Linked DNA regions of Homo sapiens: region 1 is linked to region 2. A link means that fine-mapping ties the variant in region 2 to the expression of a gene that starts in the linked region. Tissue or cell type: whole blood. Region 2 holds a variant in brackets; the other region holds the start of a gene. All regions are shown on one strand. Distances are from middle to middle.

Region 1 (2,765 bases), 63 kb after region 2:
ACTGTTTTGACACAGGGAGCACTAGTATGCTTCAGTCTCAGATCCTCCTATCTTTCCTGGCAGGAAAGTCAGTATCTCAAAACTGCCTTAGTAATCTTTAAACAGCTTGGATAAGAGTAATTCCCAGATTGTAGCTTCAGTCCTCAACCCAATGGCCTAATGTCCTATCACTGTTCCCAATACTTCTTTTCTCGCTAAACTGCCTACAATGCAAAAAGGCAGGGTCACCCACTGTCCTTTTTCCCTTCGAGGCAGTCTTGTAGAGATTCAATGTCAAGTTTCCTGATCTGCCCTGGGTTCCTAGGTTGACTGTTCTCACTGCAGCTAACATCCCCTACTCGGTGAGCTTGTGTCTCCTTGAGCTGCTAACCTGATGAGGACTCTCTGCTGCACACTCTTTCATGATCTCAGGTCCTTCAGGAGATCGTCATGCCCTTACCCCCACTCCAATCCTATCACACCTGTCATTCCCCACTCTTCCCGGCTCTATACTCTACAATTATTTTTCCCAACTCCTGCTCATAGTCAGCCCTTCATACTTCATTCATTCAACTAACATTTACCGAGTCCTGCTTTGTACTAATCCTTGGTCATTCAGTAATGTATAAAACGTGATTCTTGCCCACAATCACACAACAAATGATATAATCCCTTTGCCAATTTATGTTTCTTCCTGTCCCTGTGGACCTCGAAAGCTACACACACACATACATTTCACTTCGTTATCAAAACCAATCCCATCATTGTTTGTTCTTCTCCTCTACAGTCATCCTACCGGTAACCTTCATCTCATTAATCGCCTGTCTGTGGCCCCTACCCCAGCCCCTAATTCCTTTCTATTCTCTGGAGGGCCAATTGCCCTTCCTTTTAACCTTCTGGTTCCCTGGCTACTTCCTTCTTACGTCCCTTTTCTTGTTTATCCAGCGGGGGTGCGGGTCTCCCTAAAATTCCTTACACCCTGCTCTCCTATTACGCTTTCCTCAATCTTTGATCGCTCAGGTTACCTCTTTTTTTGCGCCCACGGCTGCCCCCAGACCCTTGGCCTTTTCGTTGTTTCATGATGAGCCCGAGCTCTTCTTCACCAGCTCAACTCCGTCTCCAGCACCTAAGCAGTATCCTCCCGCCATCCCTCCCCACGGCGCCTGCGTTCCCCGGCAACCGGCGCCGCTGGGCAGCCTGGGAGGCAGGAAAAAGCGACTCTTCCTCTAACAGTCTCCGGAAAACGGTGCGAAGAGAAGGCGCCAAGACGCCTTCCCTCCAATACACTACAATACCCAGGACGCTTTGCTACAATACCTCTCCGGGGTTGGCTGGGGGGCGCCTCCAGCTGCGCAAGCGCATAGGGATGCGCCCTTTGTGGACTCCATTGCGCAGGGTGCATTGCCCTGAAGAGCGCTCCTCCTTCCGGTGAAAGTCGTCGGGTTCCCAGCCGGGAGTCTGCGGAGTTCTCATACTCTGTTACCCAGCTTCCTTTGTATGAGTGCTGTTGCGCACTTCCGGTGGAAGCGCTGAAGCGAGTGGGTGGAGTTTACGGAGCCGGTGGGCGGTAGGCGGTGCTACGGGTAGCTGGGTGCTGTCCAAAGGCGACAGGGCGTCGTTAGGGGAGCGAGTCGTGACCGGTTGGGCCACACTCAACGTGGGACGAAGCTTCGCCTACTGTTTGACTACGTGCGTGCAGCCTCCCCTCGATGTCGGCCCTCGAAAAGAGCATGCACCTCGGCCGCCTTCCCTCTCGCCCACCTCTACCCGGCAGCGGGGGCAGTCAGAGCGGAGCCAAGATGCGAATGGGGTACGTGACCCATACCCCTTCTCCCTATGGGCCAGGCCCCAGCCGTTGGAGAATGGTATCTCTGGGCGTTCATAGAGGCACGGGAAAGGAGTCTACTGATAGGAGAAAATGTTGGCGGCCTGGAGATATTTAGATGGAGTAGAAGGCAGATTGGGGTACTAGGGGAGGCGCCAAGTCAATAGAAATTGGAGGAAAAATAACGTTGTTGAAGGGAGAGGGGAATGAGGCAAAGGTTGGGGAAGCTGAGAGACTAACATAAGGGATCTGAGAATCACTTCCACAATAAAGGAGGCTTAGAAAAGGGAGTAGAACGGTGACAAAGGTGGAGGAGAATCGGCCAGGGAAGGTGGAGGGAAGTGGGGAATGACTGAGAGAAAAGTTGAGGGGAATTGGGCCAACAACTAAGGAAAGGTTTGGGAGGAGTAGATATTATCAGAGTTCTAATATCTGCACTGTGAGAACTAGATACTAGAAAAGCTGAGGGGGGTAGAAAACACTCGAGACAGGGCTGGAGAAGGAAAGAGGAGAACTAGGAAGCAGACGATTCTAGAGAATTCCCAGAGGTGTAAAGACAGATTCAGCGAATGAGAGGTGAGATTAGGTCTCTTAAGGGAGAATGAGAAAGTTTAGGGAGTAGGCCTAAGGTAAGGTGGAGAACATAGCCACGAAGATTGTTAAGGGTAGTAGGAATGTGCTGAGAAGCTGGACAGGATAAGGGAGAGAGAAGAAGGAGAGGACTGAAGAATTTACAGAGTGAGAAGCTGGACAGGATAAGGGAGAGAGAAGAAGGAGAGAACTGAAGAATTTACAGAGTGACCATAGGCTCTAAAGATTGAGAGATGACTATAAATACGGTTTGGTGAATGGAAGTGCTGCAGTTGTAAGGTCTGGGAAGCTTAGAGGAAGATTTGGGCAATCAGTTTTTGCTGGGCTAGTAGATCTGAGGGAAGCGACGTACTGGCCTAAGACTTTGAAT
Region 2 (2,765 bases):
TGGGAAGATTATCTTTTTCTATCACTAAGAGTTAATTCTTACTCAAAATGTTCAACTTCACTATTAAAAATAAAAAATAAAATTTAGATGTCACAAATTTTTGCTATTAAAACTAGGGAAATTGTAAAATTTAATATATCTAATGCTATCAAGGCTATGGAGAAACAAGAGGCTGTCATATGCGTAAAGCTGGAAATATAAACTGGCAATATGCTTTTGGATGGCAAATTTGGTAACAGATATTAAAAGCTTTAAATATTTATGCTCTTTGGCCCAGTAATTCCATTTCTGGGAATTTGTACTAAAGAAATAATAAATAGGCTGGGCGCGGTGGCCCATGCCTGTAATCCCAGCACTTTGGGAGGCTGAGGCAGGCAGATCACCTCAGGTCAGGAGTTCAAGACCAGCCTGGCCAACATGGTGAAACCCCCGTCTCTACTAAAAATACAAAAAAATTAGCTGGGCATGGTGGCGGGTGCCTGTAATCCCAGCTACTCAGGAGGCTGAGGCAGGAGAATCGCTCGAACCCAGGAGGCTGAGGTTGCAGTAAGCTGAGACCATGCCATTGCACTCCAGCCTGGGCAACAAGAATGAAACTGTGTCACACACACACACACACACACACACACACAGAAATAAGAAACAATGCATAAAAAGCTTATACACAAATATGTATATGTTAAAAGTAGTTAACAATGAGATATACCTAGTTGTCCAATAATCAGGAATTATTAAGCTAATTATATAGCACATCCATATGATGGCATAACATGTAGCCATTAAAATGACATTTACTAAAAGTTTCTAATAATATTAACTGTTATAATGTTTGATAAAAGGGTATTAACTCATATATATCATAAACCTTCAAATACAAAATTATGTGAAAAACATTAAATAGATATTTTTGAAGAAAAATGAATAAAAACCCTCAAGATGCTAAATGATAAAAAGGAAGAATAAAACCTACATACAAAATTATACAACATACTGTATTCATTGGAAAAAGACAATGCAGATAGTCATAAATGTTAACAATAGTTATTTCTTGGTGACAGAATTACAGGCAATTTTTGCCTTTTAAAAATTATTTTTCAAGTTTTCTACAAAAATACGTAAAACTCTTTTATAATTAGAAAAAAAATGCCGGCCGGGCATGGTGGCTCACGCCTGTAATCCCAGCACTTTGGGAGGCCGAGGTGGGCAGATCACAAGGTCAGGAGATCGAGACCATCCTGGCTAACATGGTGAAACCCCGTCTCTACTCAAAATACAAAAAAATTAGCCAGGTGTGGTGGTGGGAGCCTGTAATCCCAGCTACTCGGGAGGCTGAGGCAGGAGAATGGCGTGAACCCGGGAGGCAGAGCTTGCAGTGAGCTGAGATCGCGCCACTACACTCCAGCCTGGGCGACAAAGCGAGACTCTGTGT[C/CA]AAAAAAAAAAAAAAAAGAAAAGAAAAAAAATGCCATTAATTAGGTATAGGAAAATGATTCAATGTAAATACATTGAAATGTTAATAGAGTTTATCTTGAGGTTATGAAATGATGTGCCTTTCCCACCATTCCTATTTTGCTATAATTTTTCAAAAAGGACCTGTATTGTATATGTCTTCTGAAAAAAATAAAAGAAAACAAGATGTTCTTCATGCTATCCATACCAAATAAGAGGTCAAAAGATTATAAAGACTACTCTTTTATTGAAGGAAGTAAAAACTGCTTGTTATAGTTTATTGATTTACATTATGCCAGCTGCAAGCAATTTTATAAACTTGGAATTAGTTGATCAAAACTGCTACTCACAACTATATTATTTTGGGCTTGGATACCTTATGTATTCTGCCTGCAAACAGGAAGTAGAACCTCAAATTAAGGCTAATAGCCTGTATCAATATAGCTACCTTTCTTTAGAAGGGAACAGCACAATAAAGAGGTTAAGAACTTGAGATCTAAAGACAGCAGATTTGGGATGGTGTCCTGGCTCTTTCATTAGATTGAGTGATCTTAGACATGTTAACTAAATCTCAGTTTCTTCATCTGTAAAACAAATATAATAATGTACCTAATTCACAGAGTTGTGGTGATTAAAATTGATAGTGTGCTCGTGTAGAGCCTTTAGTATTATATCTGGCCCATGACAAACAGCAGAGATTAGTAGTAGTAATAATAATAATGATAATAATAATAATAATAATAATAACAATGGATTATTAGTACTGCCTGCACCTGAAGATTCCTAGTTTAGGTAAGAATATAATTTTAGGTATCCTCCAAATCCCTAGTGTGAAGGTAAGGCAAAGGCCAAAATCACTCAAAGTACCTTTTTCTGTGGAGTTTTCTTTACATAAATTTGGAAAGTGAGGTTGGAATTCCACCAGTGCTCTATCATTGGGCCACCAAACTGTACTGGAAACACAAATCGCTGCTGGAACTTCACCTCTGTAAGGAGAACCAGACACACAGACATGTCACACCACCCAACTGAAGTCATCATCAATTCATGCCTTGATACCACCTGCCTCCCTTTCAAATTTAATTAAAATCTCCTGCAGAAATCGAGTCAGTGTGCTTTCACAGAAAGTGCTAGGGTTGTAGGATTGAATGAGCAGGGACAAAGAGAAAACTCTGGAGATAGTACACAGAAGACAGGCAGTGCTATGTTGCTCCGCTTTGCCATGAGAAATGAATGTCAATCATATGAGTACTGGATGTGTAAGGAGACATATCTATATACTTCACTGGGTTTTAGGTAATAGCACTGTTTTTAAAAGA

The links. PIP is the estimated chance that this variant, and not a neighbour inherited with it, causes the effect.
Region 1: it holds the start of C2CD3, and the variant in region 2 is fine-mapped to the expression of C2CD3 in whole blood (INTERVAL, PIP 0.95).

What each region holds. Positions count from the first base shown.
Region 1 is chr11:74,169,734-74,172,498 of GRCh38, forward strand. C2CD3 (C2 domain containing 3 centriole elongation regulator) reads right to left here and starts at 1,269. Exons shown (of 33, transcript NM_001286577.2): 1 at 1,005-1,269. The coding sequence starts at 1,059. PPME1 (protein phosphatase methylesterase 1) reads left to right here and starts at 1,556. Exons shown (of 14, transcript NM_016147.3): 1 at 1,556-1,789. The coding sequence starts at 1,689. RefSeq lists enhancers at 504-1,427, 1,201-1,650, 1,428-2,350.
Region 2 is chr11:74,106,721-74,109,485 of GRCh38, forward strand. It overlaps C2CD3 (C2 domain containing 3 centriole elongation regulator), which reads right to left. Exons shown (of 33, transcript NM_001286577.2): 12 at 2,314-2,432. Among named protein-coding and RNA genes, the nearest start is that of C2CD3, 63 kb to the right of the region's middle. The variant C/CA (reference allele first, on the strand shown) is at 1,430.